5 separate regions of the Homo sapiens genome follow, and regions 2, 3, 4 and 5 are each linked to region 1. The links come from fine-mapping of genetic effects on gene expression. A gene starts in region 1. Each other region holds a variant in brackets. All regions are shown on one strand. Distances are from middle to middle.

The links. PIP is the estimated chance that this variant, and not a neighbour inherited with it, causes the effect.
Region 2: its variant is fine-mapped to the expression of ATP1B1 in monocytes (TOPMed, PIP 0.90).
Region 3: its variant is fine-mapped to the expression of ATP1B1 in transverse colon (CEDAR, PIP 0.95).
Region 4: its variant is fine-mapped to the expression of ATP1B1 in whole blood (INTERVAL, PIP above 0.99).
Region 5: its variant is fine-mapped to the expression of ATP1B1 in whole blood (TOPMed, PIP above 0.99).

Annotation. Positions count from the first base shown.
Region 1 is chr1:169,102,775-169,108,889 of GRCh38, reverse strand. ATP1B1 (ATPase Na+/K+ transporting subunit beta 1) reads right to left here and starts at 2,200. Exons shown (of 6, transcript NM_001677.4): 1 at 1,964-2,200. The coding sequence starts at 2,060. LOC101928596 (a long non-coding RNA gene) reads right to left here and starts at 4,766. Exons shown (of 2, transcript NR_135799.1): 1 at 4,397-4,766; 2 at 3,983-4,180. RefSeq lists enhancers at 1,491-2,063, 2,064-2,636, 2,425-2,719, 3,210-3,783 and a silencer at 2,233-3,152.
Region 2 is chr1:169,326,055-169,332,169 of GRCh38, reverse strand. The region is part of intron 1 of NME7 (NME/NM23 family member 7); the gene reads left to right. Among named protein-coding and RNA genes, the nearest start is that of NME7, 39 kb to the left of the region's middle. The variant T/G (reference allele first, on the strand shown) is at 2,985.
Region 3 is chr1:169,070,141-169,075,732 of GRCh38, reverse strand. The region is part of intron 1 of LINC00970 (long intergenic non-protein coding RNA 970); the gene reads left to right. Among named protein-coding and RNA genes, the nearest start is that of LINC00970, 14 kb to the left of the region's middle. The variant T/G (reference allele first, on the strand shown) is at 1,910.
Region 4 is chr1:169,127,300-169,133,414 of GRCh38, reverse strand. ATP1B1 (ATPase Na+/K+ transporting subunit beta 1) reads right to left here. Exons shown (of 6, transcript NM_001677.4): 4 at 6,007-6,115; 5 at 3,325-3,405; 6 at 696-2,123. The coding sequence ends at 1,860. NME7 (NME/NM23 family member 7) reads left to right here. Exons shown (of 12, transcript NM_013330.5): 12 at 598-884. The coding sequence ends at 630. Among named protein-coding and RNA genes, the nearest start is that of ATP1B1, 24 kb to the right of the region's middle. The variant G/A (reference allele first, on the strand shown) is at 3,919.
Region 5 is chr1:168,578,340-168,584,454 of GRCh38, reverse strand. It overlaps XCL1 (X-C motif chemokine ligand 1), which reads right to left. Exons shown (of 3, transcript NM_002995.3): 2 at 4,278-4,392; 3 at 2,386-3,403. The coding sequence ends at 3,235. It also overlaps the pseudogene RPL7AP21. Among named protein-coding and RNA genes, the nearest start is that of XCL1, 4.8 kb to the right of the region's middle. The variant A/G (reference allele first, on the strand shown) is at 3,057.

The sequences.
Region 1 (6,115 bases):
AAGGGGCAGACATATTAGCACAAAACAAAAAGGGGATTTTTAGCCCAGCACCTGTACCGTGGAACATGGAAGGGAAGAGGAGGCAAGTACAGCAGTCCTGGGTCTACATTCACAAATCAGCATACTGATAGCTTGCTGGATAGGATATCAAGACATAAAAATTGACACACACGGTCTCTCTTTCTCTCTCTCATGGAGGTGCTGCCCATTAAATGTCGGCTTAAAAATGAGTCAGTCCATACTGCCTTACCCTCTAAAGCAAGTATTATTCTGAGAAGCATGAAACTGGAATGAGCAAAGATGCATATTATACTAAGGGGAAAAAGACAAGAAGGCAAATTTCACAATGTGCCTAGAGTCAATGCAGCCCCTGCCCCTGTGACGCAGCAGGGTCAGACCACCAGAGAAGGAAGCCCCAGCTAACCTGGGGAGAAGGGTGCCCATACCGCAGTGCACCTTCCAGGCCTCCCTCAAGTTACAAGGAGTTGCCAGGGAGCTGTTCATTCTACACACACCCCACAGTTCTTCAGGTTTTCCTTTCCACAGTAAAACACAGGAAACTACCTTTATGCCTGAGACACTATGACAATAATCTCAATGAAGAAGTCTCCCCAAAATAAAATATAAAACAAAAGCTAAAAGCCATTAAAGAACTACATTTTCCATGGCTCAGGGATACCTATGCTTCCCAGTAACACCTTGGAAAGACGCTTCACCTTGACTAACCTTGAAGTGTGATGCATTATTAACCCTTTAATTTTCAATCAAGAGAGACTCACAGGCTGCATTTTTTTTTCTTTACAAAAATTCATATATTCCAGCTTCTTCCATTTCAAAATGTCAGCTAAGCACTATTTCCCTGACTCATTCTCCTGCCGATTCCCACAGATCCTCCCAAGCAGGAACACCAATCGGCCTCTGTTCAGGACTCCCTGAATGACTGCAGTGGTGGTGCCAGTGGTGTTGGTGGTGATGGTCATGATGATGATGATGATGATGATGATGTTGGAGGAGGAGGGGGCAGTGATGCAGCAGGGGGAGTTCCCTCCCTCCTTCCCTCACGCAGTCACGACTCATAGATTCGCCTACAACTCTGCCCTTCAAAATGACCTTTTTTTTAAAAAAAAAAAAGTCACCTTTCCGGAGAGGCTGAAAACAAGAAATCTAATTTTCGATGGAAAAAAGTCTATCCAACCAAGCAACAGGCTGCACAAAATATTTTAAGATCAGCTGCTCTGCGTTTATATTCCCTTCACCATAATCAACCCAACCTACTGACTGATCCACAACTGTCTGTGTAGACCTTGAAAACAACCAGACTTTGCCAGGTTTCGGGCCAAAGCTAAGAATCGGAGTCCTGAAATGGAGCTTATTGAACCATTTCTGGGTGGTGATGACTCCAGGGGAGGTCATGGAGGGAAATCCTTAGCCATCGCTGTGAAATACTACAGTGTGGATGGATTCCTCTCCACCCTTCTCTTTCCTCTCTTTTGAGATACGTATTTAGACTAGAAGAAAGATGCTGTAACACACAACCTCGTCTGCATTAGATCCCATCACCTCACGAGGTTCTCTCAAGACCCCAGATCTCATTTTTTTTTTAAGGACTCAGGACACGGGAGAGACAAATGTAGTCTCGCAGAGCCTGACTATTCCCAGGAGTAAAAGGCTCAACCGATGCACGGTAGGAAAGACTGCAAATTACCAAGCCAAGATCGCTACGATATGCATAACCTTCCGCCTGTCGTGTTCCAGCCCCGACCCTGCGCCCCACTCTGGGGACACCGCATTCCGCACAGGACTGCAAGCCCAGGCCGGCGCGACCCAGCAGCGTCCACCACCCTCGCCCCCGCCACCCCGGCCAGCGCGGTGGGTGCGGAACCGGCCGCGGACCCTGCGCAGGGGATGCGCCGCCCGGGAAAGATCAGACGCGGCGGCCGGGAGCTGCGGACCCCGTACTTACACCAACTGCCACCGGTCCTGCCCAGAAACTCCTTCTTCTCTGAGTTCCAGATGAATTTCTTCCAGCTGCCCTCCTCCTTGGCTTTCCCGCGGGCCATGGCGATGGCGGGTCAGCAGCTGCCGCGGTCCGGAGGGTGGGTGGCTGCGGCGCGCGCCCTGGCGTCCTCTGCGCCGCTCGGCTTCTCCGGCCTGGCTCTCTGCAGGCAGGACGCGCCGCTGCCGCTGCGGCTCTCGGAGTGCGAGACGCGCGGCGGAGGAGCCAAGGCAGGAGCAGGAGGAGGGGGAGGCGGCGGCGGCGGCGGCGGCGGGGCGGGGGCGGAGGGAGGGACGGCGCAGGCTGCGCGGCTCCGAGCCCCGCACCTATTGGTGGGCGCGCAGCCGCTCGCGGGCTTTCTTTGGTCCGCCGAGCGCTCCTCTAGCCCTTGGGGGGTCGGGGGCTCCGCGAACCCGTAGCTGCCGCTCCCGCTGCCACTGGGGACGTGTGCTGGGCCCCCGCCTCCCCTGACCTCTGCAGAGACAGGCCCGGGGTAGGAGAGTCAGAGAGGGAAGGACGGACAAGCGGACTGCGGGGCGCCACCGGCACTCCCGCCAGGAGCCGAGGAATTGGCTGCGCCCGCCCTACCTTTACTATATACCGCGCCCCGGCGGCCGTGCGCCCCGCCCTCTAGCGGCCCGGTGGCCAATCGCCGGCGCCAGGGGCAGGGACTCGGCCCGAGAGGGCGGGTTCGGGGCCGGCACAAAGGAGCCGCCGGGGCTAGAGGGGCCGCTTGGATCGCTGGGCGCGGGGCGTTGGGCGCGGGGCGAGGAGGAGGCGGGGGCGGCGGTGAGGGACGCGCAGGCAGCGCCGCGCAGCCCCCTCCCAGCTCCCGGCTGGGCGTGAACCGCCCCTTCCGTGGCTGGGGGATCCGCACCTGGGTCGCCCGGAGCCTCGAGGACCCCAGCCCGGCAGTCCTGGCCCAGCCTCCACGCCTCTGCCTGCCCGCCCGCGCTTTCGGCCTCCCTGGGCTGTGGGTCCACCCCTCCTGGGCGCTGGCGGGGTGGGGGAAGGTCACTCCGGGACGCCGGACTGGCGAGGACTCTGCCCAGCTCCGCCCCGCCTCCCGCTCCTGCACCTGCCGCCCCCTCGCACTCCCCGCCACTGCGGTTGCAGTTCCGGCCCTTCCCTCTTCTTTGCAGGCCAGCCCAGCCGGCAGCCCCGGTTCCTGACTGCCCGGCTGTGCCCCTTGTGGGCGGCCTGAACCACCTCGAGCAGGACAATTGCCAAACCCACCCAGGGCGGTAGCCCGCAGTGAGTTGTCCCGTAGAAACCAATTGAGACTCAGGCCAGTCTAGACCCCAGGCAACAATATCTGCACGTGACCCAGCCACCGAGGACTTTCTTGGTGCCCGGTCGGCGGCGGGTATTCTCATTGGCATGCTTTTATGCCCCCTTGGGGGTATCGATCCCTTTGTTCTGCTGTAAAATTCTTGGAGCCAAAGGACCTTTGGGAAAACCTAGCGCATAGGGCAAGATGTTGCAGACCTGGGGCATAGAGTACCCCTTCCCACTCTTTGTCCGCTGTTGCTGGAAAGCCAAACTCTTGGTTTCATCCCTCTCCTATGAGCCCCCAAGCAGCTTTATACATCCCTCTGAGGACAGTGACACAGCAGAAAACACCGGGATGCTTCTGCTTCCACTGCAGAGAAGCCCTATCCCCAGGGGCCATCATGGCCCATCTTGACGTCCCAGCCCCATATCAGAGAATTCCCCAATACCAGGATGCTTGTCCTTATCCTGGCCACCCTTCTGTCCCCAAGGTCAACCTCGCTGGCATAAAGACAAGCCCGAACTGATTAAGAATGAGCATTTTTCTAATCCTTCTCCAAGCTCGCCTGCAGGACCTGTGCAAACCTAAACATTCCTGAAATTCGGGGGAGAAGCGACCACCTATCCACCAAGCCCCAGTGGGGGAGGCTGCAGGGCTCTGTCAAGGGCATCCGAGAGAGAGAACAGCTTATTGAGAAAGGAAGCCACCTCTCGTTTAGCACCTGTAATGTTTATGTTGGAAAAACCCCAGCTTGGTAGTATGAGAGCTGCAGGAAGATGCTGCACTTGCGGGTATGATGACCCTGGTCCCCTTCAGGCAGAAGTTACCTTATCGAGTAGTTTTCCAGCAGGACAGGTTGCTGGGAAGGGTATGTGTTGTTGAGTGTCCATTACTGTAACAGGAGGGAAAACCTGTAGGCAGAATCAGCAAAAAGAGATGAGTGGGGAAAGGGTAGCATGGGAAGGGATGAGGCGGTTCTGGGAGTTGGTGGTGCCCTTACTTGTGCCCACTCCGTTCCTGTACCTTGATTCCCAACCCCCCTTCCAAAAGAAGCATATGGTAAGACAAAATATATAAAGAGAGTCTCCAGTGACAGATTTTCTTTTTTCCTAAAACAAGTGTCCTACCTTAGCTCTTCAGAGGTGTAGCAAACACCCAGTAGACTGATGCTTGGTCTCTAGTCTTTGATTTACTGTCTTCCACTGGGGAATATCTTCCCCTCTCAAATTTTAGGTCCCTAGCTCTACTCATCCCCCCTTCCCTGCATGGAAACTCTTCACAGGTTCAGATGAAGTCCTGAGGGTCACGTCTGCACAGCCAATGCAGCAGCTCATCCTAAGCCAGCCTCCTCCAGCCTTCCTGAAAACCTCCAGGTTTCCACCCAGTCCTGGGATTGCTGCTGGAAAACATGATCTCAGCCCTATAGGAACCAGATTTATCTCAGTAGCTCATCTCAGACTCCACTTGCCCCGCCACTCTAGACCATCTGGAATTGTACCACTCATCTAACCACTTCATCACACAGAACAAGCTGGTAAAGACCTACATTCACCTTCCCAGCTTCAGAACATGCATGCTAGCTGGGTGACCTTGGGCAAGTCACTTGTTCTCTCCAGGGCTGTTCCCTCAGTCATAAAATTGAAGTGATACATTATTGCAAGGATAAAAGGAGCGATATGGGAAAGTGTTAAGCACAGTGCCTGAGGCATGGCAAGAGCTAAGTAGCTAGCTTAATTATAATCAGCTGTTTCCATTTGACCTTGGCTAACCTTGGGGCTGTTGCTATGACTTTGTCACCTTCCCACTCTGATACCCACCCCATACCAGGACTCTGAGTTCCCATCAGCCCCTAGAAGGTCACCCTGACGCATTCCCCACCCTCTCTGCCACCTTTCCCCTTGCTTTCCAGTGCGCTTCCTGCTGTGTGACCTCCTCCAACTCAAGTAATGAATAACTCAAGTACTTTATGTCCCGTTGGGCTGTGCTGAGCTGGGCTTTTGTTCCAAGGCCCCTTCTGTGAAGGGTGCTGTAGCAGCAGGTTGAAAGCCGAACATGTGTGGTTCTCCAAAGGGAGGGGTGCCCCGGCAGGTGGAGTGTGTGGCTGGGCGTGGAAGAGGGTGTGGACCATGGGGAACTAAGACAACTTTTCAGTCAATGCGTATGGAAACCCAGTGTTTCTCTGCAGAAAGGAGAAAGAAATTATTCAGTTCAGTTTAAAGGCTCAGGAGGAAGAGAACAATTTTTAATCCCTTTTTTCAGTGCAGGCTGGGGAAGAGGCATGGTTCTGGAGTCCTGTGATTGGTTCTGCCCAAGGTTAGTGCTCTGTGGGTGGATGAGGGGAAGCGGAGAGCAGGAATGGCAGGAGAGCGGTGAGAGACCTCCGTCCCAGTGAGGATGACATGTTCTAACTCAGGAAATGAATAGATGCTCTTGCGATTGAAGAAAAATCTACGCTGGAGGCAGACAGGCTGGCAGGTAAAAGCAGGACAGAGCAGTCCTGTTTGTAGCAAGGTGGCCAGTCAGAAGCTGGGCTGGGAGAAGAGGCAGGACAAATCAACCCCTAGCAGTAAGATCCTTCTGTTCAGAGAAGCTAAAGTGAGGGGTGCCTGCAAAAGAGAGGGCGCAACTTGGCAGGCTGCATGAGGTCGAACCAGATTTGAAAAACAGACCTTCCCCTCTCTGCCCCTCCCCAAATATTGGCTCTCTGAATCTCTCTGCCAAACACAATGCAGACTGCTCTTCAGAGGGCTCCGCAGGGCTGAGCTGCCAATCCCACCTTCACACACGTGCTCACTCACAGTGGGGTTCTGTTTGGCCAGCCCTAGAGTATTTTAAGTACAGCGTGG
Region 2 (6,115 bases), 220 kb before region 1:
GTGTGTGGATTTTTTCTGGGTTCTCTATTCTGTTCCATTGGTCTATGTGTCTGTTTTTATGTCAGTACCATGATGTTTGGGTTACTATAGCTCTGTAGTATAATTTGAAGTCAGTTAATGTGATTTTTTCAGTTTTGTTCTTTTTGCTTAGGATGGTTTTGGCTATTCTGAGTTTTTTGTGGTTCCATATAAATTCTAGAATTGTTTTTTCTATTTCTATTCTTTGAAGAACGACATTGGTATTTTGATAGGGATTGCATTGAATCTGTAGATTGCTTTAGGTAGTGTGGACATTTTAACAATGTTAATTCTTCCAATTCCATGAACATGGAATAGCTTCCCATTTTTTTTTTGGTCTTTTTCAAATTATTTCATCAGTGTTTCATAGTTTTCATTGTAGAGATCTTCATTTCTTTTGTTAATTCTTAGGTATTTTATTTTATTTGTGGCTATTGTAAATGGGATAACTTTTTAAAATTTCTTTTTAAGATTGTTCACTGTTGGCATATAGAAATACCACTGATATTTGTATGATTTCGTATCCTGCAACTTTACTGAATTTATCAGTTCTAAGAGTCTTTCAGTGGAGTCTTTAGGTTTTTCCAAATATAAAATCATATCATCTGTAAACAAGGATAATTTGACTTCTTCCTTTTCAATTTGGATGCCCTTTATATCTTTCTCTTGTCTGATTGTTCTAGCTAGGACTTCCATTATTATGTTGAACAACAGTAGTGATAATGGGCACCCTCGTCATGTTTCAGATCTCAGAGGAAAGGCTTTTAGTTTTTCCCCATTCAGTATGATACTAGCTGTGGGTCTGTCATATTTGTCAAATATGCTTTTATTATGTTGAGGTATGTTACTTCTATATTCAGTTTTTTGAGAGTTTTCATCATGAAGGTATGTTGAGTTTTATCAAATGCTTTTACAACATCAATGGACATGATTGTATGGTTTTTATCTTTCATTCTTTTGATATCACATATCACATTGATTGATTTGCTTATGTTGAACCATCCTTGCATCCCAGGGATATATCCCACTCGGTCATAATGAATGATCTTTCTAATGTATTGCTGAATTCAGTTTGCTAGTATTTTGTTGACAAGTTTTGCATCAATATTTATCAGAGATATTGACCTGTAGTTTTATTTATTTATTTATTTTGATGTGTCATTGTCTGGTTTTGGTATCAGGGTAATACTGGCCTCGTAGAATGAGTTTGGAAGTAGTCCCTCCTCCTCTATTTTTTGGACTTTTCTTTACTGGGAGTCTTTATTATGGCTTTGATCTCATTACTTGTTATTGGTCTCTTTAGGTTTTGAATTTCTTCCTGGTTCAATCTTGGTAGATTGTATATATCTGGTTATTTTTCTGTTTCTTCTAGAGTTTTCAGTTTATTGGCATATAGTTGCTTGTAGTAGCCACTAAAGATTTTTTTAATTTCTCCAGTAACATTTGTAATGGATTTTATTTATTTATTTATTTAGAGACAGAGTCTTGCTCTGTCACCAGACTGGAGTGCAGTGGTGCGATCTCGGCTCCCTGCAATCTCCTCCTCCCGGGTTCAAGCAATTCTCCTGCCTCAGACTCTCAAATAGCTGGGACTACAGGCGCCTGCCACCATGCCTGGCTAATTTTTGTATTTTTAGTAGAGATGGGGGTTTCACTATGTTGGCCAGGCTGGTCTTGAACTCCTGACCTCGTGATCCTTTTGCCTCAACCTCCCAAAGTGCTGGGATTACAGGTGTGATCCACCACGCCCAGCCATTTTGACTTCTTAGTAGCCATTCTGACTGGTGTGAGATGGTACCACATTGTGGTTTTGATTTGCATTTCTCTATACGCCACAGTTACAGTGTTATAATATCCTGTGTTTTTCTGTGTACTTACTATTACCAGTGAGTTTTTTACCTTCAGGTGATTATTTGTTGCTCATTAATGTCTTTTTCTTTCTGATTGAAGTACTCCCTTTAACATTTCTCATAGAACAGGTCTGGTGTTGATGAAATTTCTCAGCTTCTGTTTGTCTGGGAAAGTCTTTATTTCTCCTTGATGTTTGAAGGATATTTTAACTAAATATACTATTATAGGGTAACAGTCTTTTTTTCCTTCACCACTTTAAATATGTAATGACACTCTCTCCTGGCCTGTAAAGTTCCCATTGAAAAGTCTGTTGCTAGATGTATTGGAGCTCCATTGTTTATTTGCTTCTTTACTCTTGCTGCTTTTAGAATTCTTTCTTTATCCTTGACCTTTGAGAGTTAGATTATTAAATGCCTTGAGGTGGTCTTCTTTGGATTAAATCTGTTTAATGTTTTCTATAATCGTCTTGTATTTGGATATTGATATCTTTCTCTAGGTTTGGGAAGGTCTCTGTTATTAGCCCTTTGAATAAACTTTCTACCCCTATCTCTTTCTCTACTTCTTCTTTAAGACCAATAACTTAGATTTGCCCTTTCCAGCCTATTTCCTAGATCCTATAGGTGTGCTTCATGTTTTTTATTCTTTTTTTGTCTCCTCTGTGTATTTTCAAATAACCTGTCTTCAATCTCACTAATTCTTCTGCTTGATCAATTCTGCCATTAAAGGACTCTGATGCCTTCTTCAGTACGCTTTTTGCATTTTTCAGCTCCAGAATTTCTGCTTGATTCTTTTTAATTATTTCAATCTCATTGTTAAATTTATTTGATGGAATTCTGAATTTCTTCTCTGTGTTATCTTGAATTTCTTGGGTTTCCTTAGCAGAGGTTTTTTTTTTTTTTTTTTTCAGGAAACACAAATTTTCATGAAATTTGAAAATTCAAACCACAGCATGACATTAAGAAAACACAAATATTACTTATCCAGAAGAAAAAGTGTTTTGAACTTTTTCATAAAATATTTAGGAACAAGGAAGTTGAAGCTTGGAGCGGTAGAGTGAGAAATAAGGAATATGTGGGAGAGAAAGTAAAGTGAAAAAAATTAGATCAGATTTTTTT[T/G]TTGTTGTTGTTAGCACTAAACTGGTTTGCTTCAGGCCCCTAGCCAGGGTTGATTTTGAAACCTATAGCAGAGCTATTTTGAATACTCTGTCTGAAAGGTCACATATCTCTGTTTCTTCAGGATTGGTCCCTTGTGCCTTATTTGGTTTATTTGGTAAGTTCATATTTTCCTGGATGATCTTGATACTTGTGGATGTTCATCTGTGTCTGGGCACTGAAAAGTTAGGTATTTACTGTAGTCTGCAATCTTGGCATGTTTGTACCCATCCTTCTTAGGAAGGCTTTACATGTATTTGAAAAGTCTTGGGTATTATGATCTAAGCTATATCTGCTTTAAGGGGCACCCTAAGTCCATTATAAAACTAATGATGAATGTGCAACAGATAGTGTTATAAAATTTAAAAAGAAAATTGTTACTAAAATTTTTATTGACAAAAACAGATCTATAACTGTTTGAACTCCCCAAAAGGTAAGAATTGTACTTTGGCTCTGATTTATTAATATGATATATCCTTTACAAAAAAATTTACCTAGTATTATATGTTCAATAGTTTTTATTTTCATTTATAAATATAATTTTAGTCATTTTTTTGTCCATCATAAATCCCTTTTTCCTTCATACTGATTTTTTTCTGCAAAGACCTTTAAAAAACTATTTACCTAGGGTTAGTTGCAGCTGAGGCTGCATCATCACAAATCCAGAGTTGCTCTTCTTGTATGTCAGAAAAAGATCAGTGAGGGAGATGAGTGTGTACAATGCAGTTCTAAAGTCACAGGTGGACCTATAAGCCACCATCATCGCTTTGGGAGACATAGGCAACAGAAATCCTAAGTGCTTCATGTAAACTAAGTCATTTAATCCCCAAAACTACCTTATGAAGAAAGTACTGTTTCCATTTTTCAAATGGGGAAAATGAGAGTTAGAGACATTAAGTCTTGCCCAGGTCTTTTGGACTCTCACAAATATTCCTCCATAATCCCCCCCTCCAAAAAACCCCTTTATAGTTTCCTGGATCTTCTCTTTAAGCAACACATTTCAGGGCCATGTCTCTTGCTGTAGGCTGCCAGCAAATGATAGCAGCAGTAGCACCAGCAGCAGCAGACTTATCAGATTGGTGTGCTCGTTGCACTCAGCATGCTAGTAGTACCAGGCCCAGTTGGTATTTGTTGATTGATGATCATAGTATCATCAGGAATGGAATAGCTTTCTGATCAGTATTATTGAAATGAGGCCAAGGTACAATTTTGCTTGGTAACATACGCTTAAACTTACTCTTGAACTGAGAGTTTGGATTTTTTAAAGTATATCTGTATGGAAAAGATTGTTAATTTCATATGATCCACTGTAAAGCTGGACCTTCCTTTAAACAGTAGCAGAGAGAGGTGGTGGTGTGATTTATTTCTCCAAAGACTTGTTTAATCTTCAAATATAATTTCACTTGCAATTCCAATATTGGTCAATATTTCCATAAAATCACCTATTTTTTGTTATAAAACTTATATGAATTTTACATTCCACTCAATAACATATATTTATATACACATATATGCATGTTGCAGTGTAAAAATTGTTTACGTTACTTACCATCGAGTAAGACTGGTGCTCTAGGAAAGTTCTCTCTGTATAGACAGAGACCTTAAGACTTTAAGATACTAAGGCTTCTGGGTATAATAATACCACATTGTCCAGTTCAAGTCACTTCAAGACTTCTGGTATAATAATACACATTTTCCTTTAAGACTTTAAGATTTCTGGAACAAAGTGTGATTATGTGTGAGGGATCAACTCTTTTATTATGTATAACTTATATTTAAAATGTTCAAAAGAGGAAAAATGATTTGGCTTCTTTAAGAAAGTCTCTTTTTGATGCAGTGTAATCTTTAAATGTTCCTCATAAAGTACTTTTGATAGAAGTTGGAATCTTCAGGGAAGAAGGAGCTAATGATTGTCTGTGTAATCATTAGGTTGTGGCATTCTCATCAGAGCATCTGTGACAGACAACTCAAGGTGTATCTATGTGCTACTAAAGTGTTAGTTTCTCTCTCTTGAGTTGGCCCTGGAAGGCTAGTGATATGGAAATATCTGAGTCATAGGAAATGTAGTTTCCAGTTTTGGCTCAGTTATTAACCAGCTCTGTGACCTTATGCTAGTCATTTATATTATCTGGAGTTCAGTTTCTTTATCCATAAAGTGAAGAGTTAAAACAAAATGATATATAGCTTTAATAGCATTTGAGGAAGGAAACCAAGTTCCTCCTTTTTTCTAGATTTGGCTCAACAAAGCTGAAAAGTAAATTTTCTTTAAATTTTAAGGGTGGCTTTGGTCTGGATGGTGTGTGTATGTGCATGTGTGTCAGGCAGGTAGTTGAAAGGCCAACCTCACTGTGATGTTTTATCCCAAGTCCAGATGTACCACTGTTATATCTCCAGGTACATCTTTTAACTCTAGGAAGTAAACACAGTTTTTACTGTAAAGGTAAACCAGAAAGTTAAGTTTAAATCAAGTTTGAATATAATTTGTACTTGGAGTAATAAACCTTTTCCCACAGAGGAAACAGCACTAGCTTGGGAGTTCGTTTCCAAAAGCTCTACTGAACAAGCACAGGTTTCAGCTCACTTTTGTACCTGTTTCTCTGTCCCTTGGTGGGCTCCCTCTACCAGCTTCTTAGGCTTCTCAGTCACTTGTCTGCTTGACTTGAGACTCAGCACATGTCTTACGAGTAAAGACAACGCAATGAATGTTGGTTTCACTTCAATGGGCTTCCTGTCTTTCTGGATCTTGGATCCTCAGATCCTGGCTGCCTTAAAAGCTCTCCAAATCTTTGATATCCTACTTTTCTAGTTGTTCTTAGAAGTAGCATTGGTTTGCTGTGAGCTACTTTGTCATAGCCAGAAGCAACAGTTCCTCAGTTTATTTTCTTTGTATTAAAACTCTTTTCTGGATAGAGTATAGTGCAAAATTCTGCTGCCCAATTCAGAATTAAAGAGTGTGGTTGGCAGGTTTGGTGGATAGGCTACATGGATAAATGGAAGTACCAGGTTTCGTGGATTTTTCATTTGCTTTAGTTAGATGTGTCATTTCTTCTATTTTATATTTATTTTAGTGAAGGCAACATTTCAATTATGTATTT
Region 3 (5,592 bases), 33 kb after region 1:
CTCACTCTCCACTCCAGAAGCAGCCACTGATTATTTATATCACTGTAGATTCTAGAATTTCATATAAATGGAACCATATATGCTTTCATTCAATATAATCTTTTTGAGACATCCAAGTTATTCCAGATATCAGGAATTTGTTACCTTTTTATTGCTATTACTGTATTGTATGAATATATAACAGTTCGTTCATCCTGTTGCTGAATATCTGGATTATTTCTAATTTTAGCTATGATGAATAAAGCTGCTATGAACATTCTTGAACAAGGCTTTTTGTAGACATATATATATATATATATTTGATAAATAGCCAGGACTGGAATTGCTGGGTCACAGGGTAGATGTGCATTTTAACTTTTTTTTTTTTTTTTTTTTGAGATGGAGACTTGCTCTGTCACCCAGGCTGGAGTACAGTGGCACGGTTTTGCCTCACTGCGACCTCCACCTCCCATATTCAAGCGATTCTCCTGCCTCAGCTTCCTGAGTAGCTAGGATTACAGGCATGTACCACCATGCCTGGCTAATTTTTTTGTACTTTTATTTAACAGAGACGGGCTTTCACCATGTTGGCCAGGCCTGTAATCCCAGCACTTTGGGAGGCTGAGGTGGGTGGATCACTTGAAGTCAGGAGTTCGAGACCAGCCTGCCCAACATGGTGAAACCCCATCTCTACTAAAAATACAAAAATTAGCCAGGTATGGTGGTGGGCACCTGTAATCCCAACTACTTGGGAAGCTGAGGCAAGAGAATTACTTGAACCTGGGAGGTGGAGGTTGTAGTGAGCTGAGATCATGCCACTGCGCTCCAGCCTGGGCAACAGAGTGAGACCCCATCTAAAAAAAAAATAAAACAAAACAAAATAAAATAAAGCGGTTATACTAATTTCCACATTGGTCAGAGTCCCATTTATTGTACATCCTCTCCAATATACATGTTGTAAATCTTTTTCATTTTAGAAATTCTAGTGGGTATATAGTGGGATTTCATTGTGTGAGGTTTTTTTTTTTTTTTTTTTTTGAGACAGGGTCTTGCTTTGTCGCCCAGGCTGGAGTGCAGTGGTTCAATCTCAGCTCACTGCAACCTCCTCCTCCTGGATTCAAGAAACTCTCAGCCTCCCAAGTAACTGAGATTACAAGTGTGCGCCACCACACCCAGCTCATTTTTTGTATTTTTTGTAGAGGTGGGGTTTCACCATGTTGACCATGCTGGTCTCGAACTCCTGGCCTCAAGTGATTTGCCTGCCTTGGCCTCCCAAAGTGCTGAGATTACAGGTGTGAGCCACTGTACCTGGCCTTCATTGTGGTTTTACATTATCTTCAAAATGGTACTACATTTTTGATTACTTGATTACCAGTGAGGTTGACTAATTTTTATGCATTTATTGGTGATCAGATTTATCTCATTCTCTTCATAAATGGAAATGTCCAAGAAAAGCCACACATGAAATATTTAAAAAGTCAGAAAACACTAGATCTCTTTTAGAATTAGTGTTTAATTTCCAAACTAGTTTTAGATTTCAGGACATGGACCCGTCCTGGCTTTCAGTGTTATCTATGGAAATAATGTTTTCTTCCAAATTTATTGTGCATTCATTAGGGAAAGAACATAAGTTTATCCCCCTTTTTAATTTTTAATTGTTATTATTTAACAAATGAGGCTTAGATAGAGACTCACTTAAGTTATAGAACTAGTTACATAGCCAGTACATTGTATACAAGAGATGCTTTAAAAACTTTTATTGCATAAAGGGATAAATGAATGAATGAGAAATTCAAAGCCTGGGATTCTTTCTGTTGCAACTTCTGTTCTTTTCACTTGTGTTTGGTTTTCTTCCTGTTCTTTCCTTGCTAAGGTTTCAGTAACAAGGTGCTCATGTGGATATTAGGACACTGACTCTTTGTAGTTTGAG[T/G]GTCTTTAGATAGAGTACCTGTGGTTGACAGAAACTGGAGGAAGTTAGAGTCTTAATTACCTTCGTTGTCCTTCTCTTCTATGTATTATTATTTATATTTTGCCATTCGTGCCTGTGTGCTTGTGTGTGTGCATGTGTGTGTGTGTGTGCGTGTGTGTTGTAAGTTGCCCTCAAGCCTTTCTGGAAAGGATCACAGAACAAACAAAACTCAATGCACAAAATATAAAAGAGCTAGCCCTGGCCCTAGAGCAGGAACAATCTGGCCGTGGACAAACAAAACACAATGCACAAGAAATAAAAGGGCTAGCCCTGGCCCTAGAGCAGGAACAATCTGGCCGTGGAGACAGATCCACCCACAGGAAAGCTAAGAGCTCCAGTAGATGCAGGGGTAATCCCAGCACTGAGTGATCCATGCCAGCCAGGGCTTTTGGGGAAGGAATATTGGGAGGTGGACCTTAGGAACAACTAGGATTTAAATAACAAATATTGCAGAAAACGAAGACAATGTAGACATGCAAAAGGAAGAAAATTAATGGGGGTATGTAGGAATAAAATAGGTGAAACAGTAGAGGAAAAAACAAACAGGTGAGCAAATGTTTGTGGTAGGAGAGAAGTGCACACTGATCAGGAGACAATAAAGCTGGGGTGGAGTGGATAATGCACATTACAGAGAGAGGCAGGGCCCAGGCAGAGAAGGGGAGTGGCGGGGTATGGTAAAGTAAGACACTTAAAGGCCAGGCTGTGGAACTGGAGCATTCCACATGGATAATTAGGGACCCCTGGGAATTCTTGAGTAGGGGAGCAATAAGATGAAAACCAGTGTGTTAGCACAATTAATTTGGTAATATTTGGCCAGCTGTCTGGAATCTGGGAGAGACTGAAGAGATTGATTCTGTGATAACTTGGTAGAAAACTTTTCTGTTCTACACCCATTGCTCTGCCTTTCTCTGACAAAATTCTATGACAAAAGAATTATATCACCTTCCTAAGATGTTAATCAAGTTTTTCAGGCTGGACATAGTGTCTCATGTTTGTAATCCGAGCACTTTGGGAGGCTTAGGTGGGCAGATCACTTGAGGTCAGAAGTTTGAGACCAGCCTGGGCAACATGGGGAAACCCTGTCTCTACTAAAAATGCAAAAGGAAAAAAGAGTTAGCTGGGTGTGGTGGTGTGTGCCTGTAGTCCCAGCTACTCAGGAAGCTGAGGTGGGAGAATCTCTTGACCCAGGAGGCAAAGGTTGCAGTGAGCTGAGATTGCACGACTGCACTCCCTCCTGGGTGAGAGAATGAGACTCTGTCTCCCAAAAAAAAAAAAAAAAAAAAAAAAAAAAAAAAAAAAAAAACCCAAAATAAAAAAAGATATTAATCAAGTTTAATCAAGTTTTTCAATATTTTCTTCATATTGCTTGTACTTCATTAAGCACAGTTTTCTCCACAGTTTTGTCTTCTTTAAGAAAATATATTATACAAAAGTCAAACTTAATAGGACAAACTAAGCTGTTGTTATTTTCCATTTGAAAGTATATTTTACTTTATGAATGTCTTAAGTAAGGAGTCCAGCTGAGAGTAGCACTGGACCCATTGTAATTTACAATATCTCTCTTTTTTTTTTTTTTTTTTTGAGATGGAGTCTCTCTCTGTGCCAGGCTGGAGTGCAGTGGCAAGATCTTGGCTCACTGCAACCTCCGCCTCCCGGGTTCAAGTGGTTCTCCTGCCTCAGCCTCCTGAGTAGCTGGGACTACAGGTGTGCGCCATCACTCCCAGCTAAGTTTTGTATTCTTAGTAGAGACAGGGTTTCACCATGTTGGCCAGGATGGTCTCGATCTCTTGACCTCGTGATCTGGCCACCTCGGCTTCCCAAAGTGCTGGGATTACAGGTGTGAGCCACAGCACCCGGCCGTAATTTACAATTTCTATAGGGGGCTATTACACATTTACAGAGCACTTGCATGGACATTATCTCAGGTGATTCCAGAGCTTAATGTTACAGATGAAGAAAATTGATATTTTAATTAGTGTATAGGCTGGGTGCAGGCTATAATCCCAGCACTTTGGGAGGCGAAGGTGGGCGGATCACTTGACGCTGGGAATTCAAGACCAGCCTACGCACTCCATCTCTACTCAAAAATACAAAAAAAACCACACACACAAAAAAACATTAGTTGGGTCTGGAGGCGCACAGCTGTGGTCCCAGCTACTCAGGAGGCTGAGGTGGGAGAATCACTTGAACCCGGGAGGTGGAGCCTTCAGTGAGCCAAGGTTGAGCCACTGCACTCCAGCCTGGGTGACAGAGTGAGACTCCATCTCAAAGAAAAAAAAAAAGAAAGTGAATAATGTTGCCTAAGAACATAAAGCTAGAAAGAGGTGACACAAGGACATTGTTTAAAGTAAAGAGTTAAATTTATCAAAATCAAACAGAAATGTTTCTGGAATTATAAAAGAATCTAATAGAAAAACAAGGTTTAATTTTTAAATATTTAAATCCAGATAATCTCTCAGGAATATAGCTTTTGTGGGATGTGAGCTTCCCTAGAGTATTCTTTGAAATCTAATCTTTTTTTCCTGACTCTTTGTTGAGAATTGCTAAAATATCACCACCACCATCACCACCACCACTGCCATCACCACCACCGCCACCAGGAGCAGCACCACCACCATCCCCTTTTTACCCCAGGCTTATTTCAAATCCCACCACTAATATAATACACCAGCATTTATCAAGTGCTTACTGCGTATGAGGCACTGTAGTAAGCACCTTTCCACATCACTTCATTTATTTCCTACAAAGACCCTGTAACGAAGGCATTATTATGATTATCACTTCCATTTTACAAAATGAAAATGAAGGCTTAGCAAGAGAGAGTATGAACCTTGCCCAAGTTCACACAGCCAAGATGTAGAGGAGCCGGGAATCAAATCCAGCTTTGTCTTCCTGAAGAGTCCCAGCTTTTAACCACTGAGAAGTAAGCCTAAGATATTTCTCTGGTTTCATTTCCTGGGAAGGTCCTGGACACTCTGTCAAGAAGCAGGGAGTATCTTGTTTTTCTTGAGTATCTTCATCTCTGGTGAGTGACAGGCTTGGGCAGCTCAGCCAGCAACCAGTCCTCAGGGGAGAGCTGGTATTTCACTCAGCCTGTTTCTCGTGTTTTTTGTCCTCTTTCTTTTGCCAATATAAGTTAGTGCCAATAAAAGATTATTGGCTTGTGAAGAAGATGCCAAAAAAACTGTATAGGAAAATATCCTCAATAATAATACTCTGTGCTTGGCACATGATATCTGAAAATCTTCAAACATAGTGCAGCCTGCAGGTCCCTGAGTCACACACACATCCCAAAAGACGTTTCATGTGCCAGGGGAAGAAGGTGAAACAGAGATGGCCATTCTCAAAATCTTCCCAAGGCAGTAACATGAGGCTGACCAAGAAGTTATCATTCCTGACCTTACCTTAGTAATAGGCTAAGAGATACAGAAGGCAAAGGTTGGTCCCTGGAGACAGTTTGGAAAGTCTTTTGCTCTACCAAACTCTGCCAAAGCCTGAAACTATGCGAGGTGGTGGCAAAGTAATTAAATGCACAGGTTCTAGACTCAGACTTATTGGCTGAAGCTCAAATAACCAAATAATTCTATGCCTCAAATTTCTCATTTGTAAGATGGGCATGATACACTTGAGTGACTGCTTTGTAG
Region 4 (6,115 bases), 25 kb before region 1:
CAGTGCCACGTCAAGGATGTGTGTGAGCTCCTCTGCCTGCACAGGCTTTGCGAAAGGTTTCCGTTTCAGAAATACAATGCCCTGATTTTAGTGTGGGCATTTCCCATGTTAGTTAAGTGATACTAAATCTTTAATAATTATAGCTGGAAAATGTTTTTTGGAAAGCTTTTTTATCTTCTTTCACACTAAGGCTAATTTTTAAATACAGCTAAATAAGGACTTAGGCCAATCCCTGAACCAAAAAGCAAGGTATGAACCTTAATTTACTGAACCACAAACCTAACCTCATTTTTTAAAAACTGAAGTGCTAACAACTTTTTTTTTTAACACATATGTCTAGTGAAGCAATAGCAGGAACCAACACTTCATGTTTTCTAAACTGAGTGAAGTAGCAGTAGCACTGCAAGATGATTTTTTTAAATGGAACTTCAAACTGGAGCTTCATCGATTCTCTGCCTCTGATTGATTGATTAACTTTTAGTGTCTTTGGGAAGGGGTATGCCAGTGTCTGAAGTCCTGACCAACCTCTTGGACTCTGTTAAGTGGAAAAGACCAAAATTTGTCTGAACTAAGAAATTATGTGTTTCTCCGTTTCAGGTTCAATACTTCTTCAAGATCTTGGATAATTAGTGGTGTGGAAAGTAAAGAAGTCACAGGTTGGGACATTTAGACAAGAGTGAATCACACACGAGGAATGTGTTCATTCTTTTATTGTCCGTTGTTTTAACCTGACTGAATACAAGATCAACAAGAGCACTGTACTCCTGGCAATTATTACATATGTTAGAACATGGATTTTGCACTGTAGACAACATTTAACACCAGTCTATGGGGTACTGCATTGCTTTTTATAAAGTTCAAAATAAAGATTTATTTTCAAACAAGTGACTTTGGTTTATTTCATACATTACACTTTTTCTTGCAGAAAAAAATAAAATTGTACAACTGCATAAATATAAAATTCTTCCACCATGAAAATGGTTAAAACATTCATAAAGACACAGCACCAGCATGTGATGCCTCCAGAAAGGAAAAAAGGAAAGTAAAAGAAAATGTATAAAGCAAATTAATTAGCCCTGTCACTAGCCAAAGTGATGGGCAGATCCAGATCTCAGACACAGCTTTAGAACATACCGGAGGACAAGGCAAGAGATGTCAAGACAGCATTCAATACAAGCATAACACAACCCATCACCTTTTTGTGTTTTTCTGTAGTGTCACTTAAAATTTAAAGGGCAGTTCCCCCATGACAAACCCCCACCCCAGCCCCCAGGAAAAAAATAAAAATAAAGACCTAACACCACAGGAAAAGACTATGGAGTATGTTAAAAATGCTCATCGATGGGCCATTACCTTTGAAAGAGCCAAAAAACAAAAAAAAAAAAAAAAAAAAAATTACCATGCCAGTTTTATTCCCGTTGAATATTTACACCTTGGACAGCAAACCTTGCTCACATAAAGTAGAAAACAGATACAATAAAACATGGCTTGAAAAATGACCAGAGTATGCACCTGTAGTACTGTACACTAAATAAAATACACAAGGCAGCAATACTTAGGGGCCAGAAACACTGCTTACTACAAGTCAGTTACGGAATCATAATTTACAGTAAAAATGGGCACGTCCCAAGGCTCAATTTTTCTTTTTCTTTTGTCATTTACAGTAGAATAAATATTTTGTTGCTATTGCTACACTTTAATTTACATTCTAACCTATTAAATGCAGAAAGCTAGTGTAAAGCATATAGATTAAGTGTAGGTCCCATACGTATGACAGTTTGTTCAAGACTAGTAGGTTTTTGTTTTTGTATCTTTTTTTAACTTATTAAATGGCTAGTGGGAAAGATTTGTGCTTGTGATCAGCTCTTAACTTCAATTTTTACATCAAAACGTCCCTGAAAACGGTCTTTCTCACTGTACCCAATGTTCTCACCGTACGCCTTACACTCTATGCGAATTTCAGTGTCCATGGTAAGATTGGTGAACTGTACGGCCAGCAGGGGCTGCAGGTATTTGGGCTGCAGGAGTTTGCCATAGTACGGATAATACTGCAGAGGAAAACCAGGGGAGTTGCCCAGTCCAAAATACTCCACATTTCCAACTTTATCCTTATCTTCATCTCGCTGAAATCCAGAATGAAATGAAATTTTAATGGCTCACATCATGCATCACTATGTGTACTCAAAAACAAGACTCAATCTACACAGTAGTTTGCAAACTACTGAGAGAGGAAAGAACATCTACTCAGTCTATTCCATTGCAGCCTTGAGAAATGGTCATAAGAAGAGACTATTCTCAATGTGCAAATGGATGGGGAAGCTGAGTCAAATGCCAAATAAGCATTCTTCAAGCCTCCTAGAAACAAGGCCAACATTGAAAGGCAGAAACACCTTGCTGTTGGCCCAGTAAATAATCTGTCTAGTGATATTATCTCCAAAGTTTACTACTTGCCTCTCATTTTCTTGTTGAGAAATCAATCTCCACTTCCTTGCTTGGTGCTAGCACTGTCTGGGAACTCCCTTTCTTTGTTCTGCCTTTCTCTCTAAACGGTCCATTAGTTTTTGGATCCAAAGGAAACATGCACTAATTGTTACCTTAGTCTTTCAATTTTTTTTTTTTTTTTTTTTTTTTTTTTGAGATAGTCTTGCTCTGTCCCCAGGCTGGAGTGCAATGGCGTGATCTCAGCTCACTGCAACCTCCGCCTCCCAGGTCCAAGCGATTCTCCTGCCTCAGGTCCTCAGCTGGGATTACAGGCACGCGCCGCCACGCCCAGCTAATTTTTGTATGTGTAGTAGAGACAGGGTTTCACCATGTTGGCCAGGCTGGTCTCAAACTCTTGACCTCATTATCTGCCCATCTCGGCCTCCCAAAGTGCTAGGATTACAGGCGTGAGCCACTGCACCAGGCGATATTTCAATATTTTTAAAAGAGAAGCCCAAACCACTAATTTTTATGTGACATTAATTTTTTTTTAATGTTGGCCCCAAATTTTTAATACATGCTGTGGGCCAGAAAGTACTTCTGTGGGCTAATTCACCTCTCAGTTCTGATAAGCAAATATCCCAATGTATTAAATTCAGATATTTGAGTTTCTTATGCCAGTGGAGAAACTGACATCAGTCTTATTCTGATTACATCTTTCTGTTCTTTTAAAAAGTTTTACCTAGTATAGCTACAATTCATCTCACTGAGACTTATACTTGAAAGCAATGTTTCTTATTTCTTCTATTAAAATTCTACCTGTCACTTAAACAGTCTTCTTCATTCTCCCCTCTTCCTCTGCCTACCCTTCCACCACCCCAGTAACCCTAAATTTGTCTTTACCTTGCCAGTGCACTGAACGGGAAGGACATTTGGGTTATACTTCATCACTGGGTAAGTCTCCAAGGACTCATTCTTGGGAGGCTAAAAATAAAACCCATTATGATCAGTAGATTGTAAATGATTTCTTAAGTTTCTGAAAAATAAAACTACTCCGTAGTCCAAACAAGTACACACTGGTCACAGTAAGTCAACCAAAATAACAAAAGACATCAGGACAGCAGAATGAATGACTCCCCTAACCAATTTAAGGTCATGTTTGTGATTTTGCTGAAATGAAAATAAGTGCCCAAGTTTATAACGACTACAATTAAGCTGTGATGCAAACCAGTACTAAATGGAACTTTTAATAGTAGCCCATTATAAGCTTTGCTTAAAGACACTGAAAACTAAGTCAACCCAAAATATAATGCTCGTTATTTGCTAAGATTAGATTACATGAGAAAGATGATTGACATTTCTGTTTTTATAAAGCGTGGGCTTTCCTCCTGAGTCATGAATAAATAATGTCATCCTTTTCCCTCAAGCATGACTTCAAGTAGGCTTTCCTTTTTTGTTGTTTTAATCTCCAGTCGGGGAGACTGCCATTTAAGGAGC[G/A]TTTCTTTGCAATTTTCTTAGGAAAGTCCAATATGTAAAAAAGGCAGAGGTGTCACTGCCCTAAGAGGAAGGGTGGTCTTGAAGGGGTGAATCCACTGAAGGGACCCAGAGGACAGTCTGAAAATTACTGCTGTCATGAAATATCCAGAGCCTCCTCTTCTACACCCATGGCTCAAATCTATCTCAGAAGTGTGATGAACATACTTCGCTGGAAGACAGTCACTTGCTTACTCAGATCAGCACAGCAAGTGAGTCTTGATGTGAGATGTAACACATACATAGTCTAATCAAAGTCAGATAAAATATTAGTTCCACATCAGGAAGGAACTACTATTTTGCTACTACTCTGTTTTGGATGCAAGAAAATGATCGTCTAGATTTGACTCTTTGGGACGTTTCTGCCAGCAATGTATTTGTCTTTAAAAATATGTAGAGAAAATGCTCACTAAGAAGTTGCCAGAATCTATCCTCCAATGGTGAGGATAGTGAGATGCTGGGATACTCTGATCTCTGACAAAAATAACTCCAAAATAGTTGGAGATTTGGGTGGAGGTGATGAATTAGGCAGTGGCAATGGATAACCAAGTAGAGACCAAAGAAAAAAGAAAAAAAGGACTGAAAAGAAAGAGTAGCTGAATTTATCACTGAACCAAGTAACTCTAAAGATGTGGGAAGAAATCAATCACAATAGACTAGACTGCCTCTGTGGGGTCCAAATGTCATTCAGTGTCTACGATGAGTAATGTCAAAAGCAAGGTACTCAGAAAGTATGGGATGAGTCTTCTCTTGGCCATGCCACAACAATTTCTTTTGCTGCTAAATAGCTGATTGATCTCAGTGAAGTATTCCCCAGCAATATGAATATCAAATACATTTTGGCATAATGGTTCTCACCGTTTTTCTTCCATTATATCCTGTCTATGTGGAAAGAAGCTTAAAATCCTTTTGAGAGGTACATTAATTTCTGCCAGCAGTCCATCAAACTAGCCAGCCAGGCAACCATCCATCCCCACCTACTCATTTTTGCCTCTGATGGCAATAAAGGAACTTTGATGCATCCTTCAGTTAACAAAACTTTTTATCTCTGTGTTGATTTTCTTTTGAAAATATTATTCATGGGTAACAAGCATTGTAGAAATAAATTAATAGCATTCAATAGAAAATTAATGAACAAAAGTGCCAGATTTCAGAAATGAAATGAGTTTGTTCACATAACTCAATATACTGCAGTCAATTTCTATCAAAATTAGAAACAACACTCATAATGCCAACGCTCATATACGGGTGATTAGGGGGAAACCTGCCAGAAGAAGCCAGGCTTAAGGGGAAAGGACAGCATTAATTCATGATCTGGAGGAGAGGATGAAATGACCAGCTTTACAAAAGCAGACAACAACGATAAATTTTCCATTCTTATGGAGAATATAATCTCACCAAATGGTGAGCAATGGCAATTTGCTCATTTTTCAGTGATCCAGAGTAATGTTTATCCATTATAAGTTGCAGTAATACAAAAAGCCAACAGCATGGCTAGCAAAATTCAGCCTAGATGATGTTAAACTTCTACTTCCGCAATAAAATTCAGAAAAAATATTTTTTCAGATTATCAATTTTTTTGAAATGTTCCTGTGGCTTCCAGAGGACCAAAACTGGACTATACATGCAAGTGGGTTAAAATTTTTTTTTTAATCCATTCTTTATGAAGTAAAAAATAAAAAACTTTTTTTTTTCTCTAACCACTAGACCACCAGGGAAAAAATATATTTTTCCATTTTTACTTTTTTAAAGAGTTTATGTTATAGAAACTGTTATCTGGATACTGAGCAGGAGTATTAAGAAAAGGGCCACAGACTCACTTCAGAATGCAGCTTTGCCTCTCAGAATTCCTTTAACTTTAGAAAATGAGATTAATGTCCTAACTACAAGAATTGCAGGGTGGATACAGAAGTTTTTGGTGTTACTCTACTGGCTACGTTTCAAAGTCAGCACTGAGTATACTTTAAAACTATCTTACATTGTCTTCTCAGATCAATTAAGTACTTAGTGTAAATGACTCATCTAAATTCTATCATTTAAAATATTACTTGCCTTAGGTTTGAAGCCTAGAACTCGGTTGAGCTTTATAATAATGCACGGTTTGCCCTCTTTGTAGCCATAAGTTTCATCATTTAATCCAGAGCAATTTCCCAGCCATTCA
Region 5 (6,115 bases), 520 kb after region 1:
GACAGATATGTATAAGGTAGTACTTATCACAAAAATGTATTGGAAGGCTATGATGTCCCAGGCACAAGTACATAGACATCAAATTCATAGTCCTTAACCTACTTCTAAGTAAGACAGAAAATAAAGTCAAATAAAATGGTATTTCAGGATGATATAAGCAGTAACAGAGATGAGCCCAGGGGCTGAGCAGGTACATGGGGGTGATGGGGCTCATCTAGACTGGTGACATCAGAAAGGTCTCCAAGGGAAGTCAAGCCCTGAGCTGGGCCATTTGGAACATCCAAATGGGAATGGCTTTGATGACTGTCATGAGCATCAGGACAGCAGGCTAGATCCTGTTCCCATGTGCTCTGCAGGTGCTCAGCAAATATTCAGGACATTGAATACATTAGAAAAGGCTTGGTCTGTGGATCTCTGAAACTCCACTGATACAACCCAGCCTCCTTCTTCCTCTGGGTGGTTGGCTCCAATTGTGTTCTCACTGATCCAACTTTAGCTTAGCCAAAGAATAATGAAAGTAATAAGGTGATTTCCAGGAATGCTATTTTCTCCCATCCAAGCCCTGGCTCTCTACAGCCAAGGAAATTGGTGAAAGGAGTCACTGGCCCAAGGTGTTCGGCATGCACAACTGAGCCACAGCGTGAGTCACACAGTCATGCATAACTAATGTGCTCCCTGGCTAAGCAGTAAAGGCCCATGAAGTAAAGGTAAAAGGTGTTGCACCACGCCAGGCCAAGTTCAGAAGTCACGAGGTCCAGAGCCCCCTCCCAATTGGCTTCCTGACTCCTATCTTGTTCTCTACGCTCCATCTTCCACCTGGCAGCTGATGTCATTTCCCACAGCCTTTAAAACGAAGTACATGCTCTTTGGTCTGGCAGACAAGGCCCTTCATAGTATCTGCTCTGCCTCCCTGACCTCACCTTTTGCACCCACTTCCTAACCCCCGCACTGTCCCTCGGTCATATTAAACTACTTGCCTTTCCTTAATTCATCAGGATTCCTCTTACCTGCAGGCCTTTGCCTGTGATGCTTGTTCTCTTTGCCTAGAATGCACTGAAACCTTCAGCATAACTCTAAATCTTCTTTCCGGTCTCAAGTTAGAGGATATTTTCAAGGGGAAGCTCATCTTTACCCTCCATTCATGCTAAGATCTGGATAGGTTTGCTCCTGTGTGTCCAAAGCTCACACCCTCTGCTTTCTCCATCATCCCACATATTACACTGCATTGAAATCGTTTGCTTACTTGTGTGTCTCCCCAGTGTAAACCCCCAGAAGATAAACACCTGAAGGTTTCACCATTGCATTCCAGTGCCCAGCCAAGCATCTGGAATCCATTAGGCATGCAATAACAATGTATTGGTGGAGTGAGTTCCTGGGGAAGGGAAGCAAGAAAGATTTTCCCAGAATGTAAGCTCTAAGAAAGCAGTGACTTTGTCCTGTTCACTCTGCTGTGTCTTCAGTTTCTGGCATATAATAAACGTTCAGTAAACATTTATTGAACGAATGAATGAATGAAGTCTGTAGGTTAAATAAGGATAACCCCTGAATCATCTCTTTACATATGGTTTGGCCCGAAGGGAATTGTCTTCTGAAGTGAGAAAGACAGCGTGACACAGTTGTCAACACCCTGAATCTTGCATGAGTTCAGATCTAAACTCTACCCCTCACAGACCAAGGGACCTTCAGAAAGTTAACTAACCCTTTTATGCCTCCGTTGTCTTGTCTTTAATTGAGCTCTGTAATGTGATTAAGTGAGCTCATATTTGTACAGCAAGAAAATAGCTATGGTTATATATTTTAACAACTATTTATTATTTAAAAGATAGAACAGCCATAAAATGAAAAGTCAAGCACTGCCCATATCCTTCCACACATCCTATTATTATTATCCCAAATAAATCCTTAGGGTCTGGGAGACATTTGGCAGACAAACCATTCCATTCATCTTTTGTGACTTTGTTATTTTTCAGCCTTCATGAAGCAGGATGTCTGTTCTTATTAAGGGATTGCTTTCTCTAAGACCACCTCTGAAGTTTATTTTAGACAAATATCAATGAACATGGATAGGTGACCACACCGTTTGCTAGGAGGCAACTTTTTAGTAGTTTCCACTCTGATTCACTAGTTGTATGACTAGAAGTGAGCAGATTTGAACAAGTTGCTTTCATCTACCCTCTGAAAATTCATGATATTGTTAAATGCCCCCACAAGAATAAACAACAGCCAATATTTTTCACTTAAAACTATCAAGGCAAGGTCAGGTCTTCCTATTCAGAGTCTGATAGAAGAGAATGTATACATCGTCAGCTACTTGGATAGTAAAACCCTAAGCATGAAACAAATCAGCAATTTAATTAGCATACAAGACAGCATGAATCTGGGGTGTTGAGTTACCAGATGAGCATTTAATTAAAAGTTTACTGCAAATTGTGATCACATGAGGAAATATTGCATGGGTCAGCATTTGGAGCATTAAAAGCTTATTCGCAGTAAAGCATAACATGCATGATAACTAGCGTAATGGCAAATACAGAAATCCTAATAAGGTAGTGAGATTATTGTCCAATTCAAAGGGTATTGATTTTTACTTGAATAAAGTTTCTTTATACCAAAATTCTAATTTTTGCTAATGGGACAAAAAAGGGACAAGTTGTGTCATTTTATTCCTTTAATAGGACACCAAAATAAAACACAAAGAGGTGAAAAAAATTGAGTGAAGCAAATTTTTGAGTAGTGGACCCTCAGAATGGGAACCCAGTGAAGACTGGATTATTTTCTCCCTTATTCTATAAACAGAATTCTATTATAGAGACAAGTTGAAATACATCTCAAATTGTTGCCATTGTCACAGCTGTAACTTGTGACTGATGTGTAAAGAACCATTACAAGCTGGACTCTAAGAGAGATTGATATAGCTTTCACCTCTGATAGACACTAGCCAGAATCTCTTCCATTATGGTTACCATCAAAGAGAGGTACAAGGTCAGAAATCAAACAACAATGATACACTACCTTTCCCTAAATATAATGAATAGACTAGGGAACTATTCTTAATA[A/G]TAAATAATTTATTAATTAGAACATATAAGTGAATACAGAAGACATTTAAAAGTAAAAATACAAAGGAATAATTTTATTCATGCAGTGCTTTCATAAAAGGTGAGTATAAACTCAGTCCATGAGCGTGTAAAGTGAAATGAGCTGGCTGGCTGGAGACGGACAGGGTGCCAGAGACTACTAGCCAGTCAGAGTCACAGCTGTATTGGTCGATTGCTGGGTTCCTGTTGGCTTGGTCTGGATCATGTTATTTCTGGTGTTGGATTTCCTGTCCATGCTCCTGACCACGTCTCTCACCCATGTGGCTTGTGGATCAGCACAGACTTTTAGGCCACGTTTGGTAATAAAACTGTAACGCAAGGAAAAGACAGACGAAGTTAGCCACATTCTCAAAGCCTCAGGGTCAGGAGTTAAGATCAGGGCAGACATGAAGAGATCTTGTGCAGAAATTACTGCAAGAAATAGTCTTTCAGAGCCATGAGATCATAAATGAGTACCCTTCTTCTGCCATCTATTTTAACATAAAGGAGTAATATCTGCAAGTAGTATCCAGCCCCTTTGTTCACAATAATTCACAGGGTCCTTTTCTCATCCATGTCACCAAATGTTGTAACAAAAAGACTTTGAGGCCAACTAGTTCCATTATTACATAACCTCTTCCTTTTCAAATTTAAAAATATTCATCTTATTTTTTAAATAAAAAGTGATTTTTACATTTTCATTTTTTAGAGTAAAGCTTGCAATTACATGTTGAGAAGAGTTATTACTTCTAAAAATGAGATTCTGGTAGAAGAAAGGGACCATGTAGGTTGTGCATTGACTCATTTTCTTGAAATATGGCAACTGATAAAAGTATGGGACTCTGCCTGACTCAACCCTAAGATCCCCCAACTCCAGTGAGGCTTGCAGGGAAACCCTGACATGGGCCAGTCATCTCTAAACCCAGGTCTCAGAGCTGTGCACAGTATTCAACAGACTCTTCCACTAAGCTAAATAGAGGAGGACTTCTATTCTTTCTTTGGCAGCCCAATTTCTGCAATAATCGCTATTCGGTTGGGCTGCAGAAAGACATGATTGATAAGGAAAACTAAAGAGGTTTTTGGTTAAGTTGAGGTGTTCCTCTATGCTGACCTACTTTTCCTGAGGACGGCAGCATTTCTACAGAGTGTATTTCTATACTTCTAGATACCCACCCAGCACAACTTCTGAGGAGGCAGACTCACATTACTGCTCTCAAGGAGCCTTCCGTGATGGTGTAGGTCTTGATTCTGCTAACCGGCAGTCGCTGGGTAGTGAGGCTCACACAGGTCCTCTTATCTGAGACTTCACTCCCTACACCTGGTGAGGAAAAAAAAACAACAGACAATTAAAAATAAAGCAATTATCCAGATCACAGGAACAATCATCTGTTAAATTACTCTGAGAATGTTGTGAGAATTTAAGGCCATTTGCTTTTTGGGGGAAGAGAGGACTGATAGGCATCCCGAATCTCTTGCCCGTCACAGATTCTTAGTAAATATTTGACTAATTTAAAAACTCAATCAACAGAATTGTTTCAGGAATTTCATGCTGAGAGAAAATAACAAGATGTTATCCCGTCTCTGTGTATATTTTCACTTAGACATTTGGGACGGCTAGCAAATGCCCCAGTGACACGCATTCATTCATTTATACAATGGTGCCTGTTGTGTCCCACATGTTTTACTAAGCAGACATTACTCCTGTTTTCATAGAGCATATCTTCTCATGAGGGAGCCAGGCAGCAGACAGGCAAACAGAAAAGATCATTTCAAATAGTGCAACATGTTACAGTACCATAAGTGAGATGACAGAGTAATGCGTGAAGAGTACTCTAGGCAAGGCAACATTCAGTGAGGGAAGGAAGCATGCTTTTGACAGACTAAATAAAGGTGTTCTCCTTTTTAAATGGTCAAATGTCTCTCTCTGTCAGCTGCCTAAGATGCTGAAAGGAAAGATGGCCAAAGGAAGGAAAGTGGCCCCAGACCCTGCCGTCGTGAGGAAGCAGGAGGCTAAGAAAGTGATGAAACCGCTGTGTGAGAAAAGGCCTAAGAGTTTTCTTAGGCAGGCATTGGACAGGACATCCAGCCCAAAAGGGACCTCCGCTGCTTTGTGAAATGGCCCCGCTATATCTGGTTCCAGCTGCAAAGAGCTATCCTCTATAAGCAGCTGAAAGTGCCTTCTGCCATTAACCAGTTCACCCAAGCCTTAGACCCCCAAACAGCTACTCAGCCACTTAAGCTGATCCACAAGTACTGACCAGAGACAAAGCAAGAGAAGAAGCAGAGACTGTTGGCCCAGGCTGAGAAGAAAGCTGCTAGCAAAGGGGTTGTCCCCACTAGGAAATCACCTGTTCTTTGAGCAGGGGTTAACACTATCACCACCTTGCTGGAAAAGAAGAAGGCTCAGCTGGTATTGCACATGGTGTGGACCCCATCAAGCTGGTTAACTTTCTGTCTGTCCTGTGTCCTAAAATGGGGGGTCCCTTAATGCATTATCAAGGGGTAAGAAGGCAAGACTGGGACATCCAGTCCACAGGAAGCACCACTGTGGCCTTCACACAAGTTAACCAGGAAGACAAAGGAGCTTTGGCTAAGCTGGTGGAAGCTATCAGGACAAATTACAATGACGGATATGATGAGATCTGCAATGTCCCGAGTCCAAAATCTGTGGCTCACAATGCCAAGCTGGAAATAGCAAAGGCAGAGGAACTTGCCACTAAACTGGGTTAAATGTACACTGTTGAGTTTTCTGTACATAAAAATAATAAAAACTCTCCAAAAAATTAATAAATGGTAAAAGGTAAGATATATATAAAAGGAAGTCAGCCCTTAAATATGCATCCCCAATAGTAATGGCCCAAAGGAATTAAACTATTAAGTGTAGAGAATCATCTTACATTGCAAGAGGAAAAATAACTTGGGAGAATTAATACTGTTAAGGGTTGGGTGAAATCTAATCCAAGTTTCTAAGTGCTGATTTTCTCCTTAGCTGTAGACACTGGTCTTTGCTTCCCAGGGAAATAGGCAGCTAAAAAGCATCT